Linked DNA regions of Homo sapiens: region 1 is linked to region 2. Evidence: fine-mapped expression QTL. A gene starts in region 2. The other region holds a variant in brackets. All regions are shown on one strand. Distances are from middle to middle.

Evidence for each region.
Region 1: its variant is fine-mapped to the expression of CARS2 in whole blood (TOPMed, PIP 0.95).

What each region holds. Positions count from the first base shown.
Region 1 is chr13:110,644,930-110,657,305 of GRCh38, forward strand. It overlaps CARS2 (cysteinyl-tRNA synthetase 2, mitochondrial), which reads right to left. Exons shown (of 15, transcript NM_024537.4): 10 at 6,105-6,171; 11 at 2,172-2,310; 12 at 1,038-1,161. Among named protein-coding and RNA genes, the nearest start is that of NAXD-AS1, 35 kb to the left of the region's middle. RefSeq lists an enhancer at 4,159-4,658 and silencers at 8,402-8,491, 8,532-8,591. The variant A/G (reference allele first, on the strand shown) is at 3,523.
Region 2 is chr13:110,699,412-110,711,787 of GRCh38, forward strand. It overlaps CARS2 (cysteinyl-tRNA synthetase 2, mitochondrial), which reads right to left and starts at 6,705. Exons shown (of 15, transcript NM_024537.4): 1 at 6,459-6,705; 2 at 6,110-6,160; 3 at 2,027-2,144. The coding sequence starts at 6,682. RefSeq lists a silencer at 6,513-7,072 and enhancers at 7,123-7,502, 7,513-7,632.

The sequences.
Region 1 (12,376 bases), 54 kb before region 2:
AAAGCGCAGGACAAAAGCCAGCCTCTTTACTTGTCCCGCCCCTTGCCACAAGAGGCCCCTGTTGCCCTAGAGCTGGGCCAGCCTGGTAGTGCCGGCAGCAGCTGCGGTGAAGGCAGGAGGCCGCGGACGGGCTGAGGAGGAGGAGCTCCCGTGCAGGAGCAGCCTGGCTGCGGGACCTGCCCCAGCCCGGCCTGGCTGCCTTCAGTGCGGGGCAGCCTGTTCCTGCAGCCGGCTGTGACTCAAATGCCCGCCCCCCTCAGAGGCGAGCCCTGCGCGTCTGCAGTATTTGGACCGAAGGCACCCGGCAAGGGCACATGGCACCCTGCCCCACCTGCTGGTGCTCTGAAACCCAACACTGCACGCAGCCAGGGATGGAGACCTCCACAGAGATGCTCAACTAACAGAGCATGTGGCCAGAACCCCCAGGTGTTTCCAGAGGTGGGAGAGGCACAAACAGCCTCGGCTTCCCGGGTCATCAAAGGTCACGGGGCTCCTGACGCAGCGCCTCCCAGGGCCTGGCAGGGGACCCTCAGACGTGCAGGAACCAAAGCCTGCCGCCGCCTTCACGGTCTTTGTCCCACCTGCCAAACACTTGCAGTGACCCACGAGTCCAGGCTCAGACCCCTGGGTGCTTGGTGTGGTCATCACACTGGGGTGCAGATTGCATAACAGTGCCTTGGGGTAAATGGGTCTTTCCTTAAAAAGTTCCCCACAAAAGCTCTCTCTGTGAAAGGGCCATGAATGCAGTGGGGACATGAGATGTGTCCCCTGAGGATCAAGCACACAGAATTTCTCAGCCTCAGGGGCTCCTGAGAGCTTGTTCCCCAGGTGGCCCTGAGGCCCGGGAGGGTCAAGCCCCAGGCTGGGTGCCATCCCGTGTGTCAGCGGCAGACTCGGGCTCCATGAGTTCCTCCACAGAAGCTGCGGGAGGCGAAATCAGCAGAGATGCCACCCAGCCGACATGAGAAAAACCCACCAGAGGACCCGACCCATGCCCCTGGCAGCAGGACCGCAAGGCCACCTGTTCGTTGAGCTACCTTCAGGGACGCCCTGAGCTGTCCATTCCCGTGGTGTGCAAGGCCCAGGATGGCATCAACCACCCTGGGTGTGTCAAAATCATCTGCCAAGGCCGCCTTCACGGCCCTCTTGGTGCTGGAGAGCCTGAGGGAAGAGGAGAGAACAGTCACAGCAGAGGGAGCTCCACTCTCCCCAGGCGGCCCCCACACCAGTCCTTCCCCAGGGAGAGACGCTGGGGGCTCTAATCTGGGGACTTTCTCTAGGTCATATTCCCAAAGACTTGAGTTCCTGAGTAGCAGAAAATTATGTAACATCAACTGCAAACTGTCATGTTACCCCAAGAAAAAGTCCCAGAGCAGAGGTCACCTGTGACACTTAAAATACAAGACACACGTGGGCATTTTCATGATGGTTTTAAAAATCAATAGATATTGAGGGGAGTGGCAAGGAAGACTCGGTGGGGGAGAGACGGCACGGCTGACCACTCACAAAGAGAGGCTGGGGAGGCCCAGCCCGGGGCTCCCGGATCTCAGCCTCCCGTGGCCACTGGCTGCCTACCCTGCTGAAGTGGCAGGGGTGGGTTATCACCAAGACCATCCGGAAGACTCTGCATGCCGGGATGAATGTGCAGCGCTGCCCAGGACACCCGTGGGTGGGGAGTGGAGGCGATGCTGTGGGCCCAGGCCTGTGTGTTTTATAGATTTTGGCTCCTCACAGTCAGGACTGGGAGGGATGAGCAGCTCCGCTCCTCGCACAGGGAACCCGAGCCCAAAGCCACTCTGAGCAGGGGGCTCAGAGCCCGAGGGCCCCAGGCACACTTCCTGCCAGCGCCGTCTCCCTGGGATGTCTCGGGAGCCCCTGACCCCACACCTCCTGTCCAGCACCCAGTGTCCTGTGGCCTCTGGGGAGCCCCTGACCCCACACCTCCTGTCCAGCTCCCAGTCCCCTGTGGCCTCTGGGGAGCCCCTGACCCCACACCTGCACCTCCTGCCCAGCACCCTGTCTCCTGGGGCCTCTCTGGGCAGTCCCTGACCCCAAACCTCCTGTCCAGCGCCCTGTCTCCTGGGGGCCCCTCTTCCCCTTCAAGAGCCCACCAGCAGCACCCAGCAGGCCACAGGAGGGGTGCCACGCCGGGTGCTAGGCGGGCCTCTTACCTCTCCCACAGCATCGCTTCCCTGACGGAGCCGCAGGCCAGCTGCCCCTTCATGTAGGCACGTGCGTCCTCCAGGAAAGAGCCCAGCCCCAGGAGCAGCTGCTGAGCTTGGAGCATGGCGCTGTCACTGTAGTCGATGGCTGAGGAGGAAGAGATGGTCACTGAGGCGGTGCCCACCATGCTGTGCCCCTGCCCTGGTCCAGCAGAATCAGTGTTTTCTGAGGGCACTGCCACCCAGGGACCACACGGAGAGCGGGACATGTGGCTCTCACGCCCTCCAGTGACCGCGAGTCCCTAGGCCCACTGGACACAGACCACAGGGTCTGTCCCAGCTCAGTGGCACCTGCCGTGGGAGAACAAGGTGGCGGTGGAGACATGCTCCCAGTGCTTCCAGCCAAGAGGTGCATTTCCACTGACTGGATGGAGGTGCGGATGAATGGCTGGCTCTGGAAAGAAGGAGCCCCGCCCTGGATGGATGGAGGTGCGGATGAATGGCTAGCTCTGGAAAGAGGGAGCCCCGCCCTGGGGTCAGAGGCACCTCTAGGGAAGGCCCTCCCGAGGGAAAGTGCCTGTGTGTGATGGGACAGCCCAAAGAGGGAGGGAGGAGCAGTCCCCAGACCTGGCTTTAGAGTCTGTGGGTGTTTCTTAGGCCACCTGGATGAGGGGCCAGTGTTTCTGTTTACATCTGTTCATTTCTTGTGGTTTCTAGTCTACTGCATTCTGATGGGTAAGACAACAGGAGTGAATCGCTTTGCAATGATCACATATCCTTGGATATCAGCAAAGCCAGCCACATATTTCTAGAACCTTCTCGTGCCTACTCTGTTTCCCAGGCTGTCTGAGTCCACAGTCCATGCTTTTGAGGAGTGCTGCTTTAAACAGCTCTTTGAAAACCACAAGAATAAAAAGAGCCTATCTGGACACATATGCTGAAAATTACATCTCAACATGCCTCCAAGTCCTGACTTCAAAACGAGAATTCCAAAATCAGACATGGCTTCAAGCTGGAAGCAACACAGTGAAAACCTCCCCCAGGGCTGTCTAATATCTTACTTAACATTTTTCCTTTTTTTCTAAATTCACTTTCAGTTTTTGCTTTGAATAGCTTGATAGAAAAGAGAAAAAGCCAGAAACCCACAAAGCGATCTGACAAAATTTAAAGATAATATTCGGGGACTGATAGAGTTGATGCATGGGAGGCTGTTAGAATAAGATTACCATTAATGACACAGCAAGATGAGGCATCCAGATGGGGAGGGGCAGACAGATGCCCAGGATGGAGACGCCTTCTGCCTCAAGGTCAAGGACAGCTGCATTTCTCCAAAGAGGATTCTGCTCTACAGATGGGAGAC[A/G]CTTCTCCAAAGTGTCAGCGCAGCACAGACTGCAAGGGATGCCACCACCGTCCCCCTCCATCTTCCCAAAGGTGAAGAAAGAATGTCTGGGAAGATCCCGAACTCCCACACCATTCGTGGATGGAAGCTCAGACAGCAAGCGACGGCCCAGCTCCTCAAGGCCACCTCCGACCTCGGCGGGGTGGGGCAGTCGTGTCCACTGTGGGGATCCACGTCCTGACTAACCTTGTGTTCCTAGAAATCCCTCACTGGCAGATCGGTGCCTCCTGAATCCCACCCAAAATTCCCACTGGGAATGTGTTCCTGAAAGAGCTGCCCAGGCTTGAGAAAGCCTCTTTTCAGACCAAACTTCGTATTCAAAGCTCAAAAAGAACTGCACACAATTAGGACAGTCATACAAGATGCTGCCCCTAATCCTGCCACAATCTGCGAGAAGGGAGGCGGGGCTTCCGAGGGCAAAGTGCCCCTGGGAAGGGATCCGCAGGGAACAGCTTTGAAAGGACCACAGCCCCCAGCCACGAGGGGAGCAAGCACGAGCCGGGAAGAGAGCTCTGCGCTCGCACACGGGATTCATCTCCGCCGCCTCTGCCCGTTTCCAGCAACACGGAGCCAGGCGGAAACAGTTTCTCCAGCCCATTCGCCTCCCCGACTCTTCCTCTCACGGCACGGCTGGGCTGCTTTCATCACGCGTAAGTGCACACCACACACAGATGCTGCACGAGGCCAGGCGAGCACGAGGCTGGCCACACTTCTTTCTCAAGCTCGTGCGCCCGTGAGCGCAGGTCCCCTGGGCCGATGCACTGCAGTTCCACCCAGGGGAGAGGTTCAGACCACGTCTCAGAAAACCTGAGTTTGCAGTAGAAAGCCAACGACGTGGCGTCAGAGCCAGGATAAAGACATGGCCCAAGGTAGCCTTTCGGTGGTCAAAGGTGCAGGTGTCTGTGTGCCCCTCTCACGCTGACAGGAGCTGCAGGCCGGGTGAAATTCTGCAGGCACAGCACAGGGGAGGGAGATGGATAGGGGACCAGCCCAGGGGCTCACCCAAACCCACCAAAGCTTTGTGTGTGACATAAAGTGTGCTGGCCAGATAGATTCACCCCATGGGGGAATGAGAATAAACTATGTTTCGGCTGCATGTCCCCACTCCCATCGTCTTCATTAAAAAGGTGAAATCATCAATTTGGAGCAAGAGAGCTACGTAGGAGGGACAAGAAGGGGGAGAGGGAGGTGGCATGACAACAGCAGCGACCCAGGGCCTCGGCAGTGTCAATGGAGCAGAGGGGACACCAGAGGCCAGAAGGACAGCAACCCTCGCTCACCAGGAAGGAACTGTCACCATCTCCAGAGGACACTGGCCCTGCTCCTGCAGCACTAGCCATACACTGGGACCTTATTGCCAGTTAGGTGGTCAAGCCAGGCAGGGCAGTATCACTGTCCCCAGCCCTCACTTGCCACCAGGGATGCAGCTCTGGATAACGACTTTTTTTTTTTTTTTTTTTTTTTTGAGACAGGGTCTTGCTCTGTTACCCAGGCTGGAGTGCAGTGGTGCGATCTCAGCTCACTGCACCTCCGCCTCCTGGGTTGAAGTGATTCTCCTGCCTCAGCCTCCTGAGTAGCTGAGATTACAGGTGCATGCCACCAAGCCAATTTTTTTGTATTTTTTTCAGATGGAGTCTTGCTCAGCCACCCAGGCTAGAGAGCAGTGGCATGATCATGGCTCACTGCAGCCTCTGCCTCCCAGGTTCAAGCAATTCTCCTGCTTCACCCTCCTGAGTAGCTGGGATTACAGGCACACATCGCCATGCCTGGCTAATTTTTGTATTTTTAGGAGAGATGGGGTTTTACCACGTTGGCCAAACTGGTCTCGAACTCCTGACCTCAAGTGATCCACCTGCCTCAGCCTCCCAAAGTGTTGAGATTACAGGTGTGAGCCATCGTGCCAGGCCTTTTGTATTTTTTGTAGAGATAAGATCTCACTATGTTGCCCAGGCGGGTCTCAAACTCCTGGACTCAAAACATCTGCCAGCCTCGGCCTCCCAAAGTGCTGGGATCATACACGTGAGCCACCATGCCAGGCCAGTGCTAGACAACTCCTGGCCAAGAGCCTAGCCCGGGGCAGCAGGTAACTGTGCAGCATGGGAGGAACCGTCATCACCCATCCAGGAGACCTTGCTCTGCTACACACCGTTCGGGGAAGTGCTGCCCCTGGGCAGGACAGGCAGGGTCACGTTTGAGGGCTCCCATGTTCAGGGGCCGTGCCAGGCTGGCCCCTTCCAATCTCCCAGTTCACACAGCAGGAAGCCGAGGTGCTGCGGGTTCACGACTTGTCCAGACCCAGAGAGAAGGAGTGGAGAGGACTCGAGCTTGACGAGGAAGCCCACATCCACTGTGGGCCGGGCCCAGACCAGCACTGGGATCCCTCGTCCTCTGGGTTCACTCTCAACCCGAACCGTAAGGCACACAGCAGCCTCACTCAACAAGGTTCTGCTTATTCTCTGGCCTGCATTTTGCTGTTTTCAGTCCTGTCAGAATGACTGTCTCCGAGCTGGGGGGGGAGTCCACTCCACGTGTGCTCGGCTCACCTGAGCGGTAGCTGCTCCGCAGGCAGAAGAACCGGAAGACATCGGGGGAAAAGGTCTTCAGAAAGTCCTGGTAAAGCGAGAGACAGGCAGTCACGAGGCTTTGCTTTTACGCTTCGCACTGTTCAGAGAATATGTTACTTTCTACAATTACATAAGTTATCTCTACCTATCAAGAAATCAGGAACCTTGATGAAAATGAGCCCTCCAAACTCACAATTACCACCTGTTTCCTGGTGATTTCCTCACTGAACTTTCCACGTTCGATCTCAGTATTTGTGGAAAGAGCAAGAAGAGAAAGCCGGTTTGCACTGAAAATCCGCACCTGCGCAGGCTCCAGGAGGAGTGTGTCCTGTGCTCAGCCTGGGCTCTCTTTCTGCACGACAGGGACGTGGGACAGACAGCATGGAGCGATGCTGTGCTCAGGAAGAGACCAGGTAGGTGGCGGGAGGCACACCAGCTCTGGCCTGCCTGCAACCCCCAGGAGAAGCTTGCGGTGAACGTCAGACCCGGCTGACCTCCAGCTCAGCCCAGCCAAGGGGCGACAGCCTCACTCATCCTATTTGGTGGCACAGTTCTTGTAAACACTGGGCTAAAGCATGCGCTAAGTCTGTCTCTTGAAGACTAAACCACCCAGCTTCTGGTTAAACCTAAGTAAAACTCAGAACCCAACCGGTATCCTCCTATAGATCAATTAGAAAACGTCTGTCCAGAAAGAAGTGGAGCTTTCTACATGAGGAAGCTTAGAAGAGGTCATTAGAGGCACTGCAAAAGCAGCTCAGCCCTCAGCAAAACCTCCTGTGGGGCGCTCAGGGTTCAGCTCTGGCAGCTACTTTTAAGAGATGAGATGAGTGGGGGAGAGAAGGAAGAGGGCTCTGCCCAGCTTGGGCTTCCACTGTGGCCCCAAGAAAGAAAGCCGAGCTCCGACTGCACCCCTGGCCAGGGACGCGCTCCGACGGGAGCCCGAGTGGCTCCTTGCCTGGATCTGCAGCACATGGTGCCGGCTCTGACCAAAGCCCCCTTTCCTGCCACCACCTCAGAAGACAGAACTGGCTCACCCCATGCCTGTCCACTGCGCAGGAAGCTGTCGCTGACCTTGCTGGAGTGAGAATTGCGTTTCCGTCTCCCTCGGGTAAACCCGATACCCTCTTCTCTAGGCTGATGGGCAGCAACACAAGCCCAGAGCACAGGGGCTGACACCAACCCACAGTCTGCACCCGCTCATCAGAGCTCAGATACCCACTTCCTCTGCAGGGTGGTCGTGGGAGCACAGAGCTGCCAGGGAGAGTGAGCCGGAAACGGCGGAGTCCAGCTCAAAATACTGCATCACAACACATGGTATTTTATGAGGCATAAAAGACCAGTCTAAGGCCGTGCTGCTCAACAACCCTACTGAGAGCAAAACACACACAACTGAAGAGCGTCTTGGGGTAGAAGGGGCTGTCCCTGCTTCAGGCTTCAGCGGCCTCGCCCACCCAGTAGAAAGGAGGGGGCTCCCTGGACTGCTGAGCTGGAAGGAGGAGGACACTGCTCCACCTGCCTCCAGGGCTCAGTCCCTTCAGAGGATGGAGCAGGTCTGGTCTGTCTTCTACCAGGAAGGAGCTCAGCCCCCACCCCACAGCCCAACTCCTGTCTGCCTGTGCCTGAGGCAGTGAGGGGCATTCTCATGTGGGGTGGCGTTAATCAGAAAGCTGCTGGGCCAATGCCCTAACACAGGGGTGCTCAACCTGGGGTCCACAGACCTCCTAGGGGCCCACAGAGAGAAGGTGGGAGGGCGGGGAGATCTGTGAACTGGGATGGTTCAACAGTTATGTGTTTATTTCTGCCAGCCTTGCACCGAAATGGGTATTTCCTTCGATGGTCAGTGTAGGCAGCAAACGCATCTGGAAGCACAGAGCCTGGCATGGTGGCCACAGCTGCCACAGGTGACCCCACAGGGATGACATCACACACCACAACTCACACGAGAGGATGGCAGCCATCAGACCCCACCCACGCTGAGCTAACCGCTGAGTCAAGCAGAGCCCCCGCTCCTCTACTTCAGTATCATCAACGGCCTTTGGGATCCTATGTATTTTATTTTACGTATTTAAAGCAAATTGTAAGGCTGGGTCCACAGACTTCACCAGGCTGCCACAGGGGCCTGGGGTGGGGAGGGGGGCTGGGGTATGTGTGTGTGTGTGTTTGTGTGTGTGTGTGTGAAGAGCCCCTGTCCAATCCAACAGTAGTTCATCAGTAATCACACTGGAATTCCATTTCCGTCTGTCCATCTCCCGGGTGCTCCTTCCCAAATTGTGAAAAAAGGAATATTACTCCTGGGTCCTCTAATTCGCAACTCGCAGGCTTACTTGACACCCTCCCTCACCCGAGGTGCTGTGGTTCCAATTAACGCACACAGCCATGTCCTGCCGGTTTCAGTTCAGGTTGCGCCCTATTTAGGTCTCCGGGTTTCGGTGTGGAAACACCACTCCACAAGCAGCCTCCACGCTCCCCACTTCATTCCAAAAACGATTTCACCTGGCTTTCTCTCAAAGGGGTTTTCCTCTCAGAATGTAAACGCATGCAGAATTAGCCTCAATGTGTTTTCACGCATCTCATAGTTCTCTGAAACCCCAACAACATTAAAGGCTTATCTTCCCTGCTCTTGCGGGGGCGGGCGCTACTGCAGCGAGCTATAGTAGTAGTTCTAATAGAAATCTGGAATCTAATCTTTCTAGAGCATTGAGTTTATACGGACTAAAGGAGAAACATATTATAACTTCTTCATTACACAGTATTCTGACAATGATGTGAAAACTCTTGAATACTGTGGGTGCACACGGACATTAATTTTTTAGCGTGTTCCTGCTCTGTGCCGGCTGATATCAGCAAGTTTCTATACTACTCCGGTTCCACCGTGCAACCTGCCACGGCTCCCTGAGAGGCAAAATGTGGCGACGGCAGTGTAAGCTCGTGCTGGAACTCTCCAGGAGGTAAGCAATCTCCCAGAGCCCAGGCCGGAGGACCGGATTGGCCTTCAGGTGGGGATGGTAACAAGCCATGTGAGCCCCAGTGAGCTCACGAGGTAACAGGGTGCACACTCACAGGGAGCCCGCTGGGTACACATGCCAGTTGCCGAGGGACTTCCTATGATGCCAGCGCTGCACACACCCCTGGAGCCCCTGGGCAGAAGCAGGCACCAGAGCCTCTCTACTGGGCCAGGCCCTAGCTTGCTTTGAGACGTACAGTAACTAGAAAGCAGGTTTTAAACCATTATCTGAGCTCCAGGGTTGAGCTCTTTCTACGTGGACTGTGGCCTCCATTACGCAGAAAGCATTGGGTTTTCACCCAGGCTATCATAAAGGTCTATCAGTGGTCTCCAAGACAAAGAGGACTGGCGGGAAAGGGTCTTATGCTAGAAACCAGGAATGTGGCAAGTATTTTTAAGATGTAGGGCAATAACTTAACATCTCCAAGGAACTATGGGCTAGGGTAGGTGCGAGCTACCAAAAATATAAATGAAAAATCACCAGTAAATACATATAGACAAATCAACACAGCAAATAGACAAACGCATGGAAATTTAAAATCTAGTTGCCATTCTTCACAAATTAACAAGAAAAATGGGCCAGGTGCCGTGGGTCACACCTGTAATCCCAGCGCTTTGTGAGGCTAAGGCAGGAGGATTGCTTGAGCCCAGGAGTTTGAGACCAGCCTGGGCAACATAGTGAGACTTCGTCTCTAGAAAAAATACAAAATCAGCAGGTGTGGTAGTGCATGCCTGTGGTCCCAGCTCCTCAGGAGGCTGAAATGGGAGGTTTGCCGGAGCCCACAAGTTCCAGGCTGCAGTGAGCTAGGACTGCACCAGGTGCCACTGCACCAGGTACCCAGGTGACAGCAAAACCCTCTCTCAAAAAAAAAAAAAAGAAAAAGAAAAAAAAAGAAAAAGAAAAAAAGGAAAAAAGGTAACCTGATTAAAATTCTAATTTGATGCTGGAGAGACCTGGGAAACAGACATTTTAATCTACTGCCAGTAGGAATGTAAATCACACTCGTTGATAAAGTCACCAGGGGCTCTATCCAAAACATTCCGAATGTGCCCGTATCTTCTGATGTGCGATTCTACCTCAAGGCACTTTTCTCAAGTCACTAATCATTAGATGTGCACAGATATTTAGCTAAAGGATATTCATCACAGCACTGCAGCCTGCAGAGTACAGGTCTCACAAACAAGCCCAACAACAGGGAAATAAAATCACGGTGCCTCCCTGCCATGAGCCACTAAGAGGCTGCTAAAAATAATGCAGACATGGCAATGTCTGTGAAAATTGAAAATGCACATACCCTAGTGGAAAATACAGTAGGATTTAAATGACCATCAATAGGGGATTCTTTAATTAAGCTGCACCCACACACTGGACTACACAGCCATTCGAGAGAATGAACCAACTCCATATGGTAGAAAACCGACTGAGGCCAAGAGATTAATCAAGCAAGCGCAAAACTACACGACTGTGTGTGAAGGGAAAGTGAGAAGCACAGCTATAGGGAGATGTGTGCACACACACACCTGCTCCGAGAAAACTAACCGCTGCTTCAGGAGAGAAGCCGGGCAACAGTGAACGTGGTCGGGCAGGAGGCCTGCTTTCCAGACTTAGTACCTTTGAATTTTTCTACCGTGTGGTTCTCTGTCTTGTCTGCAGTTTTCAAACTTTCTGAAATTAAACCCATCATGTCTATAATCAAATTAAAACCTCACTTAAATTGTTAGGGAAGAGGCGGCATGCATACGACACTGCCTCATGAATGAGACAGAGGAGAAAGGTTTATGTGTATTGGCCTATCGTGTGTAACGGAACACAGGAAGATGAATCCAAAACAGAGAACACAACTGTGGCTGCTGGGGAAGGAATGGGTGCAGGCGGGCTCCAGGCCAGCCTTCTCCATGCTCTCTTTAGTGTTAATGCTGAACCCTGCAAATGTTTCACAGATATGACAAATAAAAGTAAATTGGGACTGGATGCAGTGGCTCACGCCTGTAATCCCAGCACTTTGGGAGGCCGAGGCAGGTGGACCTGAGGTTAGGAGTTCAAGACCAGCCTGGCCAACATGGTGAAACCCCATCTCCACTAAAAATACAAAAATTAGCTGGGTGTGGTGGTGTAGGCCTGTAATCCCAGCTACCTGGGAGGCTGAGGCATGAGAATCACTTGAACCTGGGAGGCAGAGGTTGCAGTGAGTTGAGATCACACTAATGCACTACAGCCTGGGTGACAGAGCAAGACTCTCAAAAAAGACAAAACAAAAAGTAAATTGAAAAGGGGAAGAGAGAGACCACCACACTGGAAACAAACAGAACAAATGAACCTCTTGTGTTAATGAAAGGAGATCATTACATGCCGCGAGTGTATGTTCAGACCACAGAGCTTTAGTGGGGTGCAGTCCACGAGAAAAAGAAATTTCAGTCCAGAATAGGTGAATCACAGAAACAGAAAGTAGATGAGCGGCTGTCGGGGCTGGGAGGAGGTGGGAGTGAGAAGTGATGGCCCATGGATGTGGCGTTTCTTTTTGGGGTGATAAAAACGTTCTTAGAGGCCGGGCGTGGTGGCTCACGCCTGTAAGCCCAGCACTTTGGGAGGCCGAGGCAGGTGGATCACAAGGTCAGGAGATCAAGACCATCCTGGCTAACATGGTGAAACCCCGTCTCTACTAAAAATACAAAAAATTAGCCAGGCGTGGTGGTGGGCGCCTGTAGTCCCAGCTACTCAGGAGGCTGAGGCAGGAGAATGGCGTGAACCCGGAAGGCGGAGCTTGCAGTGAGCCAAGATTGTGCCACTGCACTCCAGCCTGGGCGACAGAGTGAGACTCTGTCTCAAAAAGAAAAAAAAAAAAACGTTCTTAGATAGTGGTCGTTTCACAACTGCGAATATCTTACAAACCACTAAGCAGTACCATTTAAATAGTATACTTATATAGTATGTGCATTACATTTCAATAAAGCTATTAGTTTAAAAAGAAATAAGAGAAGCCTTAAGTTTTACTCAATAGTTTTACTGTTAATGGTAATATTGGTATTAAGTTTTTAAATTTATTTTGTGTGTATTTTAAGATAAAACAAAAAGTTGATATGCTCTTATGTTTAGTAAGAGAGGAAAATAAAGAGCTAAAACTAAAAAGCCCTGTGATATTAAATTTTATTTGGATATATCAAAATTAACCCAAATAAGGAATCTATTTTGTATGTGCAGGTTTATCTCCCTCTCCCCTAGCTCTGACCCCTGAAAAAGCGTAGACGC
Region 2 (12,376 bases):
TCTACTTCATGTATGTTAGAACATTTCCACTGTAACACATGCTGGTAAAAGCAGTGGTAACTGGCAAAGTATCACAAGACTACATCTCGTCTACATCAAAATTAGGTCAGCTTTACTTAAATTCCTTCATCAGATTCAGGAAAAGGAAATAGCCAGTCATCCTAACTAACACACAAATGAATAGACTGTCTTGTATGCTAAACCACAGTGAATTGTGAAAATGGGCAAAAATGTCCAGAGAGAATGGTGATTAGAGGAAGCACCCGCAATGGAGAAAGCCGACACAAGACAGCATGTGGGGCAAAGAGTGACAGCGTTTCATCAGAATGGCTTCTTTAGGAAAAGTCTTCCTCACCAGCAGTTAAAGTCAAAGGACCCACCAAAGCCCTTCCGGTAGAAGTGATGTGCGGGGCACTGGCCCCCAGCCAACAGGGAGAGCCCGAGGAGGCGCCTCCAATGTCCCACCTGCCTGTACAACCTCATCCACTGTGTCTTCCCAAAGCTTGCCAGGCACCACACTCCAGGTGTGGGCCAGACTCCAGTGGGGCCCTCAGCCTGCACGGGAAAGAGACTTCTGCTACCCGCCACAAGTGCGCAGGCCATTCCCACCTGGCAGGGGTACTTGCCCAGAGATAGCTGAAGTCAGAGCTGTGGGAGTGGCCCTGCCCCTGAAGGTCTGTGCAACCTCAAGATGTGATCACCTTAACCTCTTGACTCTTCTGCAAGATGGGGACACATCCAATGAACCTGAGTGGAGGGCCACCTTACAAAATCAAAGTCCTACAATCCTTGACAGTGTCAAGGACATGAGACAGGGAACTACTGAAGACTGAAGGAGACCGAGGAGACAACAGGACTCTGGAAGGGGTTCTAGAACAGAAAAGAAAGAGGCGCTCGGGGACAGGGACAACACCTGGGGTTGACGTCCATGTCACCCACACCAGCGCACTGCATCAATGTCCGGTTCCTGACTGGGAGGGCTGTGCGGGCCTCGAGAGCCAGTGACCTTGCTCTGAAGGCACGCGTGGCGTGTGCAGAGAGGGGAGGCGGCCTGGTGGGAAAAGTCTAGAACAGAGAGAAGATGATGGCCCAACGCAGCCAACAATGGCCACGAGGAAACCCAGGGTGGCTGCAGGAGATCTTTGTACTATTCTTGTCATTTTTCTGTAGATCTCAAATCGCTTCAAATAATTTTTTAATATGGAATAAAATGTGTTAAAAAAAGCACAATAAGGTCTGCTCTGCGCAGCACACAGGGTTGTTCTGAGACTGAAATACTAATAGATACAAAAAGTACTTTTTAAACTATCAAGACACAGACATGAAAGGCATCATTAGCACAAATATGAATACGTCCAATCAGTGGGTCTGGTTCCCTCAGTAAAGAGAAAGTCAAGTCATTTCCCTTGGAGGCCGAGGGGCCAGGGGAGGGAGTAAGATTGGAGCCAGGAGACGACCACAGAAGGAGGTAACGACACGAGGCCACAGAAAAGCCTTCAGCGATCACAATACGATAGATGTTAACTTCCTTTACTAGGGCACCAAAGAAACCCTGCTAACCCAGCACTGTTTCATGTCTCAGATTACACCCACTGGCCACACATGGACAATAAGATGTGAGAACTACTTGTAAAATGCAAACAAGAACCACTTTCTTTTTTCTTTTTTTTTTTGAGACAGAGTCTCCATGACCCAGGTTGGAGTGCAGTGGCACAATCTCCGCTCATTGCAACCTTCGCCCCCCCAGGGTCAAGCGATTCTCCTGCCTGAGCCTCCTGAGGAGCTGGGATTACAGGAGCCCGCCACCACACCTGACTAATTTTTGTATTTTTAGTACAGACAAGGTTTCACCATGTTTGTCAGGCTGGCCTCAAACTCCTGACCTCAAGTGATCCACCTGTCTTGGCCTCCCAAAGTGCTGGGATTACAGGCGTAAGCTACCACGCCCGGCCAAGAACCACTTTCAGGAAGGGCTCAGAACACTAATCAATGGCATTATCAATAGATGTAACTCTTCTCCACTTACCTCATTGGCTCTTTTGATGATTTTATCATCTACATCTGTAATACCCATCACCATGACTATGCTGCATCCAAAAACCTTGGTTAGGATCCTTCGAATGATATCAAATCTAACATATGAGCTGAAAGAAAAAAAGTGTCAGGATGTCTTTATTACACAAAGTCATCAGTTATCTTTGTAAAAAATCCATTACATTTTAACATGCTGCTCCATAACTTCTACTGTGTAGCACAATGGACAGGTCAGCGGAGCAGGTACAAGGAAACTCCCTCTCACTGATGGCACCAGGGCCTGCGCCACAAGGGTTCTCAGGAGAAACTGACAAAGGTATTGCATCAATTTCAGGACACAATATTAGCATTTTTAATTTTGGAGTTGTTGCTTAAGTGAGTTGAAGTCTATTTAATTGTATAAAAATTCACTCATAATACAATCTCTCAGTTAAGATCGTGTTTTCACCATTCTTGTTCATGTTCTAGAGTAATTCTAATTTTTCACTATGACAAAACAGAAGCAAATACCAAATCAAAACAAGTACGATCCCATTAAAGCCATATAAGATTACTCCTAAGAATGCACACACTAGTGTAGAATATTTAAAAATGCCAGCTTATTTATATACTACACTGGGGTAATTCAGACTTGTAAAACTAAAAGGGTTTAAAATCTACTTAGCATCTCAAGAATCTGTTTTCCCATAAAAGTTACCTTAAAACTCAAGGTTATCTAATGTCACACTCACCTCTGCTATCCATGTGGCCTAAATTTCAGTTCGTAAAATTGTTTTCTCTTAGGGTGGTGTGGGGGAATCCTAGCCATGTTATTGTATCACTTTAACCTCCCACACACCCCCTCCCTCTCCAAACACAGCTGAGACCAAATCTTGATTCCAGGGACAAAACTATCTCCAAAACTCAACAAGATAATTAACCTCTTACAGCTCAGTCGGCTTGCTTATAAATTTGGCAAAATCCCACCACCTAACAGGACTGCTGTCCAGCCTTACCGCCTGTGCAGCATGAATTCTAAAAACACAAGCTATTATTACCATTCTCATCACCATGCTCCTTCATTCACCTCAAGTTGGGAAAGAGTCTAAAAGATGTGAGATTTACAAGAAAAAAATTACAGGAACCTAAAGCAAATGAAAACAAGAGTCAAGTCCCTTGCTTGGCCCAGAGGAGCCCAGGCTGAGTCCCGGAACTGCCCTTGGAGACAGCAGAGGCTCCACAGCTTGGCAGAGCTGGCGGAATGCAGGGTCATGAGCAATTTGAGACCCTGAGACGCTGCAGGCAGGCTGTGACCACAGGGGCCACTCTATACACAAACACGCACACACACGCCTTGCAAGTGCCGGGCAGCCAAGTCTGAAGAACATGGCATCAGGAGACCTCAGCTTGCTTCTGTGACTCCACCATGAACCATGCTACCGTCAGCCCGGCTCTTTCTGCCCCATTTTCTCCATCCACTGGGTGAGTGTGCTCATCTGGGTGATCGCTGAAATGATTCATTTGCTAAGAGTCTTCCCTCAAAACGCTCCAGTGTGACTCCGTCTACCATGGCATGAAATCCAAACTCTCTGGGCCAGACCACGCAGCACCCTCCCCAGTCTGGCTGCAACTGACGCCCCATCCCTTCCCCTGCTCCTCCCCCCTAGCACCAAACTGATCTATTTGTTTTCCCCAAACAGGGTTTCCATCCCTCTGACCTCTTCTGGAAATGGTGGAGGCTATTTTTCAGGGTGTCTCTTTCCAGTGAACTGAGTGCTACCCATTGCTCAAATTCTACCTTTCTGCAGCAGGCACTGTGTGCATCCCTGTCCTGCTGGAGCTGAAATAATTACATCATGCTAACGACATCAGATGGTTGCATAAATAACCACTGAAGGAGTACAATGCTAGGAGAGCTGAGATGGGGAGAGGGAGGTGGGGCAGGCCAGCCCAGCAAAGGCCTGGAGGGGTTGGCCAGGCTGACAGGAAGGTGGTCAACAGGAGAGTCCCAAGCTCCCACCAGCCCCTGGGAAGGCCCTGTGTGGACACAGCTTATAACATGCATTCAGCTGCGCACTTAAGATGTGTATTCTTTTCTGTAGTCATAAAGGTAAATATTATACAAATTTAAACTGCAAGACTTGACTCTCCTAGTTGGAAATGAGAAGAGATTCTCTCCCCAACAACTTTTAGGATTTCTTCCTCAGTCCTCTTCAAATGCATGTCAATCTTTTAAATGGCTAAATAAACCTCTTGGCAGTTTTACAACTCAAGAAAATTTCAAAACCTGGGACCCACCTCTGAAATGTAATCAAGGAAAATAACGCCCCGTTTCCCAGTGTCCTGGGAGGAGATGGGCCTACCTTGTCATCTGACTCCACACTGTAACTCACCTGAAGCAATGGGTTATGCTATGGTCTGAATGTTTGTCTTCCCTCCAAATTCATGGTTGAAACCCTAACTCCCAAGGTGACGGTTTTAGGAGGTGGAGCCTCTGGGAGTGACAAAGTCATGGAGGCAGAGAGCTCATGACTGGGGTTAATGCCCTCATAGAAGAGACCTCAGAGAATTCCCTCTACCTTCTACCATGTGAGGACACAGCAGGCAGACCCTCAACAGACACCAAATTTGCTGGTGCCTTCATCTTGGACTTCCTAGCCCCAGAAAGAAAGAAATTTCTGTTGTTTATAAGTCATCCATTTTAGGATATTTTGTTACAGCAGACTCATAGACTGAGACAGGCTGTATCCCCAAAGCTCCATAGAAGGATGAGATTTCTTTCTGTCTTTGCAGTTATTTTAGCTCATCCCCTTCTGGTTTAAGGCTTATTCAGTAACAGAACTGTTTTCTTTCTCTTCTACCTTTGTGGAAAGGTTTTCCAGGGTGGGGGTTTTGTTTTTAATATTTCCCCAACATATTTTATAATTCAAGAAAGATGTCGAAATATGCTTTTGATAATTAAAAGTATGTTAGCCCAAAGTAAAGGGGAAAAATGTATATTTAAAGTATACAGAGTATGCCGGGCATGGTGGTTCATGCCTGTAATCCCAACACTTTGGGAGGCCAAGGCAGGTGGATCATTTGAGGTCAGGAGTTCGAGACCAGCCTGGCTGACATGGTGAAACTCCGTCTCTACTAAAAATACAAAAATTAGCCGGGCGTGGTGGTACATGCCTGTAATCCCAGCTACTCCGGAGGCTGAGGCAGGAGAATTGCTGCCAGGAGGCGGCAACTGGACCTGGGAGGCAGAGGTTGCAGTGAGCCGAGATTGCACCACTGCACTCCAGCCTGGGCGACAGAGCGACTCCGTCTCAAGAAAAAAAAAAAGTATACAGAGTAAATGTAACTTTTTACTTTTAGTCTAGGACTGAACAATACTAAGTTTTAAAAAATCTATAATATGTCATTTTTGTACATTATATTTTGGAAATGTACAAAATATTAGGAAAAGTGGTAATTTTGGCAAATGTAGGAGGCAGTACATCTTACAGTTAAAGAGGTCAAGAGAGCAACCACTTCGCAGTCAGAGAAACCAAGCCTCACCCCAGTTCCAATACCTCTTCAATGTGTCATCTTAGGAAAGTTACTCAATCACTATTGAGCCCCGTGACATCTCACATGTGAGGTACAGTGTTAAGCAGCATTTTATGGGCATTATTTACTAAAATTGTTATAAGATCCAAGTTATCATTCCCATCTCAAAGATGAAGAAACCAGGACTCAAAGCAATAAAGTGACCTGCTCAGTGCTGTGAAGCTAAGAAGTGGTGGGGCCCAGGAATGACTGATCAGCAGGACCCCGGGACCCCGCAAAGGCCTCTTGATGTCACTAAACCCAGCAAAAAACATCTAGTTCCAAAACGGGTCATTTTTCAGTGCTCCATTGTCTCCCTGAGTTTCCTCACCTGTAAAACGGGTGTAAGTGCTCAGAATCCCTATAAGAACCAAATGAGGTTGTAACATTTCCCACAATGCCTGGAATGTAGGAATTATTCTGCATCCCTAAGTTGCCACTTAAGAGATAAAAGAAATCAGCAAAAGGCTTTCAAAAATAAATGGTCCTTTGAAGTATGAAAATTCAAATCCAGGAAACTCACCAAGCATGGCCAAGGTGCGCATGATCATATACAGTTGGTCCACAGCTATACCTGGAAACAAAGTTAAAATCCATCGTGTGGAACATATTTGCAAGAAAGGACATTCGATTCTGAGTTATAATGATCATATAATTTTTAAAGTAATCACTTCTGGGGGATGAATAGCCGGGGTTTTCATACTTGCTCAATTCACACCCAAACCTGCAAAAGCACCGCGCACCCCCAGCTTCTAGAACGGCGCCCTCCATGCAGCTTCCTAAACGCCCTCCCCGAGCCCAGATCCCGTTCAGCCGTGGGAAGTCTCCGCCACGATCGGCCCCCGCCCGTGCCCCAGTCCCGCGCGGCCCACCAGGAGGCGGCTTCGGCGTGCGCCACGATTAGGGGTTCCTTCCTCCCGGTGAGGCTGTTGTACACCTGCACACCCGTCTCCCGGCCCGTGGGCTGCAGCCAGGCCCGCCCGCGCCCCCCGCTCGCCGCCCGGCCCGCAGGCCAGTGCCACCCAGCCCGCCCAAGGCCCAGCGCGGCCTGGAGCAGCGGGGGGCCCAGGCCTGGGCCGCGCGTAGTCCTCAACATGTCAGCGGCCAGCGCCTACGACTGGGCGGAGACGGGAGCCACGCCGGGTACGCTGCCGGTCGCTCAAGAGCAGCACGGCCCCGCCCCGCCCCGCCCACGCCCTTGGGGCCACGCCCACTCCCGGAAGCAGTCCTCAGGTAGCGCCTCCCTTTGGCCTGGCTCGAGTCGCCCGCGGCAAGGGTGGAGAACCAGGGCCCGAAGAGGTTGGGGCGGGGAAGGCCCGGGGTGGAGGGAGGAGGGCGGTGCCGCGCCGGGAGGCCGTGGGAAGAGGCGGTACCGTGCCGATCTCCTCTCCTTATTAGCCCAGGTCCTGCGAGGCGTCCGTGTGCGCGCGGTACCAGCCTGGAGCTGTGTCCGCCGCGCGGGAGGAGCGTTTACAGTGCAAGCTTCTGTTGCCGGGCCCTGGCCTGTTAGCGAAGCACGTGTGCATCCCAGCACAGCCCACGTCAGCACGCTAATACACAGTGTCCACCCCAGAACACACGTCAGCACCCCAATACAGTGTGCACCCCAATACAGTGTGCACCCCAAACACACATCTGCGCCCCAATACAGTGTGCACTGCAGCACACCGTTAGCATCCCAACACAGTGCACCCCGATACACAATGTGCAACCCAACACACAGTCTGCACCCCAAGAAGTGTGCACCCCAATACACAGTATGCACCCCAGCACACACATCAGCATCCCAATACAGTGTGCACCCCAATACAGTGTGCACCCCAGCACACACATCTGCACCCCAATAGTGTGCACTGCAGCACACCATCAGCATCCCAACACAGTGCACCCCGATACACAGTGTGCAACCCAGCATACAGTCTGCACCCCAATACACAGTATGCACCCTAGCACACACCACATCAGCATCCCAATACAGTGTGCACTCCAATACAGTGTGCACCCCAGCACACACCATGTCTGCACCCCAGTACAGTGTACACCCCAATACAGTGTGCACCCCTAATACACTGTGCACTCTAACACACACCATGTCTGCACCCCAGTACAGTGTGCACCCCAACACAGCACATGTGCATCCCAGCAAACACTGTCTGCATTCCAATGCAATGTGCACCTCAATAGAGTGTGCGCCCCCACACATCTACACCCCAATACAGTGTGCACCCCAATACACAGTGTGCAACCCAACACACACCATGTCTGCACTCCAATACACAGCATGCCTCCCCCACCATGATCCCGTATCTTGAGAACAAAAACATTCTGAAAGTTACTCACAATAGCTTGACAAACGTGCCTCTATTGGGCCAGGCGCAGTGGCTCACACCTGTAATCCCAGCACTTTGGGAGGCTGAGGCGGATGGATCACCTGAGGTCAGGAGTTCGAGACCAGCCTGACCAATATGGTGAAACCCCGTCTCTACTAAAAATACACAAATTAGCCGGGCGTGGTGGCGTGCATCTGTAGTCCCAGCTACTGGGGAGGCTGAGACAAGAGAATCGCTTGAACCCAGGAGGCAGAGCTCACAGTGAGCTGAGGTCACACCACTGCACTGCAGCCTGGGCAACAGAGGGAGACTCCGCCTGAAAAAAAAAAAAAGTGCCTCTATTGGTGTCTTGCAATACGATGTCTCAAAAAAAAGAAAAAGTCCCCTTTGCTTTTCCAGTTCTCAAAACAGGAGACGTTCCTCTGGTTTTTTGTTGTTGTTTTTAGTTTGCTTTGGTGTTTTATTAAAAAGCAAAGGTTTAAGTAGAGACAAACAAGTGTGTACCTAGAGTAGTTTCTCAATATCCTGGAGTCCAACTCTGCAATTCTGTTTCAAGCTAACTGTAGTCTAATGTAATCTATTGTCTAATTTAATAAGGTTAAAATGTTAGAATTAGGAGACCCTATAGCCTACATCAATGCTAACCACTCATGTTACCTAACTACTCTAAATTCTCCTGAATATTATCACTTCTTGCCTGCCTTATGTTATTTTGTAACTTTCCAGTGCTGTGTGTATATTTATCTCCCTGAGTATCTTAAATTGTACATTATTTTGAACTTCTCACTGTGCCCTGCACTAAATTCAGAAAAGGACTTGGGTTTTGTTTGTTTTGTTTTGCTGTGGCTGGAAAAAAAAAATTTAGAAGAAATAAAAGGGCTTGTTGAATGTTGATGAATTAATCCCTTACGAAAGGGATTAATTGTGCAGGTGGGAAGAAATCTGGGTAGTAAAATACCTGATAAAGCTGATTCAGATATTAGATGTGCCAGTAAATAAAGCAAATTAACAAAAAGCTCAGTTGCAATCTGTGAGAACACACGAATTCAAGGAAATAACTGGAGCAGAGATTCTGAAAGCAGCTTAGTAACACTGAAGATCAAATCTGCACATGAATCTGGACATGCGGTATATTTGAATTGTTCATAGAACATCACAACTTTTAAATTAACAATAGTATCTTCTGTCTTCAGAAAATTCATGTAATGTTTTTAGCCCCTCACTGGCAGTGATTCTATTATGTTTTCTTTTTTTTTTTTGAGGCAGTCTTGCTCTGTCACCCAGGCTGGAGTGCAGTGGCCTGATCTGGGTTCACTGCAGCCTCTGCCTCCTGGTTCAAGCAATCCTCCTGCTTCAGCCTCCACAGTAGCTGAGATTACAAGTGCACACCACCGTGCCCAGCTAATTTTTGCATTTTTATTTTTATTTTTATGTATTTATTTTTGAGACAGAGTCTCACTCTATCACCCAGGCTGGAGTGCAGTGGCACGATCTCGGCTCACTGCAACCTCCACCTCCCAGATTCAAGTGATTCTTCTGCCTCAGCCTCCCGAGTAGCTGGGATTACAGGTGCGTGCCACCACGCTCAGCTAATTTTTGTATTTTTAGTAGAGATGGGGTTTCATCATGTTGGCCAGGCTGGTCTGGGACTCTGGAACTCCTGACCTCAAGTGATCCAGCCACCTCAGCCTCCCAAAGCGGTGGGAATACCGGCCTAAGCCACCACACCTGGCCAATTCTCTTTTCTCTTTTTTCTTTTTTTTTTTTTTGAGATGGAGTTTCACTCTTGTTGCCCAGGCTGGAGTGCAATGGCGTGATCTCCTGGGTTCAAGCGATTCTCCTGCCTCTTTCTCACGTCTCCCGGGTTCAAGCAATTCTCCTGCTTGTCTCCTGAGTAGCTGGGATTACAGGCATGTGCCACCATGCCCAGCTAATTTTGTATTTTTAGTACAGATGGGGTTTCTCCATGTTAGTCAGGCTGGTCTTGAACTCCCGACCCCAGGTGATCCGCCCACCTCGGTCTCTGAAAGTGCTGGGATTACAGGCATGAGCCACCGTGCCCGGCAGCTAATTCTGTTTTCTTAAGGCTTTTGCGGATCATCAAAACAAGGAGAAACATAGCTCATTACCTAATGATGGTTAGAAATGTGATCTTTTTGCATATTGAATATCTGCAGGTTGAATATTAAGGTAAAGTAAAATAGACTGCTAATGCTCTTCATTACTATACCTCCCAGCCTACATCTTTCTCCTGTGCTGGGTGCTTCCTGCCCTCGAACATCAGACTCCAAGTTCTTCAGTTTTGGGACTCAGACTGGCTCTCCTTGCTCCTCAGCTTGCGGACAGTCTATTGTGGGACCTTGTGATTATGTAAGTTAGTACTTAATAAACATATATATGTATATACATTATATATATCTATATCTCCATCCTATTAGTTCTGTCCCTCTAGAGAACCCTGACTAATACACCATATATACATAAAAAGAGGATCCATTTAATTGAAGTCACCTCCCTCTCCAATCTAGGTCAGAACGAGGAAGTGTGTTAAAGTTAATGATTCCAAAATATCACTAATGCCATTTCTCAGTCCTTAATGACAACAATAACAAAATCAAGTTCTCAGTATTACATTTTCTTTCAAGGCAAAATCTTGTAAATCAGAAGTAGAGTTGATTACGGTAGCATATGGTTTAGGGGTTTTCAAGTTTAAGATGAATGAGTTTGCATTTATTTTTTAAGCACTTTGAAACTTAAACAATTCTATGCTTGGCCAGGCGCGGTGGTTCACGCCTGTAATCCCAGCACTTTGGGAGGCCAAGACAGGCGGATCACCTGAGGTCAGGAGTTCGAGACCAGCCTGGGCCAACATGACAAAACTCCGTCTCTACTAAAAATACAAAAATTAGTTGGGCATGGCGTCCGGCACCCGTAATCCCAGCTACTCAGGAGGCTGAGGCAGGAGAATCGCTTGAACCCGGGAGGCGGAGGTTGCAGTGAGCTGAGATCACGCCACTGCACTCCAGTCTGGGTGACAAGAGCAAGACTCCGTCTCAAAAAAAGAAAAAGAATTATATGTTCATCTCTTATATCTGACTCTCATAGGTTTGAGCATTTTCAGTTAGACTGGAAATATAATTTTAGAAAAAAGTTTAATTTTAAATGTTTCTTTTTAATCCATTTGAAATTTCTGTTCTACGGAAAAGTTTTAACATCCATTTTTGCAACACGCCACAGGAAACAAAACTGAAAGAGACAAGATTCTTCAACGTATCTTCAAAATTAAGCACCTTTCTTCAATGACATTTAAAATTCGTTATCAAAGGTAATTATGTTTTATTGCTTGATCTTCTAAGTTTGTTCCAAAAAAGATAAAATCTTTTTTGACTTTTTATCCCAAGGGGTGGGCTAAAAGTTTTATGGAATGTAAAGCTCCAAAAAACTTTTCACTACTGTATCCCCAGCGCACGGACCAGTAGTTGGCACATGGTAGACACTCGTCAATATTCCTTGTTGAATGCTTAAGATGCCTTTTTGGTTTATGTGTATGTGAAGAGAGTACATAACTAGAGGAACAAAATCATTACTCAGATTGTACTGTGTTGTGATTTTTTTTTTTAAAAAGAAAACCTAGGTTAAACTCCATCTTATCTTTGTAAAGGGTAAATTACTTCCAATTTTATTCTTGAGTTCAGATAAACACTATTCATTCTAGAGCCAATGAATGCTAGGAATAGAAGAACCGGTCTATTTCTTACTATTGTACTTTTAAATTACTTATATGCTTTTTGAGGGAAAGGCGTAATTTTCCTTATTCAACTTTGTACTCCCTCTATACTCTGTATTCGACATAATGTTTGTTTCCACATAATGTTATCTTGTCGTAGTCTTTTTTTCTCTTTTTTTCCGGAGATAGTCTTGCTCTGTCGCCCAGGCTGGAGTGCAGTGGCACAATCTCGGCTCACTGCAACCTCCCCTCCTAGGTTCAAGTGATTCTGTCTCAGCCTCCCCAATAGCTGGGACTACAGGCACGCGCCACCATGCCCTGCTAATTTTTTGTATTTTTAGTAGAGACAGGGTTTCACCATGTTGCCCAAGCTGGTCCCGAACTCCTGATCTCAGGCAATTCGCCCGCCTCGGCCTCCCAAAGTGGTAGGATTACAGGCGTGAGCCACCGCGTCCGGCCAAGTGTTATAGTCTTTTGTGCAGACCAAGTAGTGGCCAATAAATCTTGTAGAAACTAAAGTACTCATTTGCTTTTAACTAGGCCAAGACTAGAATAGCGTGATCTGTAAGTAAAATAACAGCCATTTCCCCAAATATCAAAGCCAAAGCTCTCCTGCTGTGTAGGTGAGATGAAGGGGCTTAAAAGTGAAGATTAAATCCACTTCAAAGTGTAAAGAGTATCCATCCATTTATCATTGCAGCAACGTTGCAACGTGAACAATCCGATTCCAAAT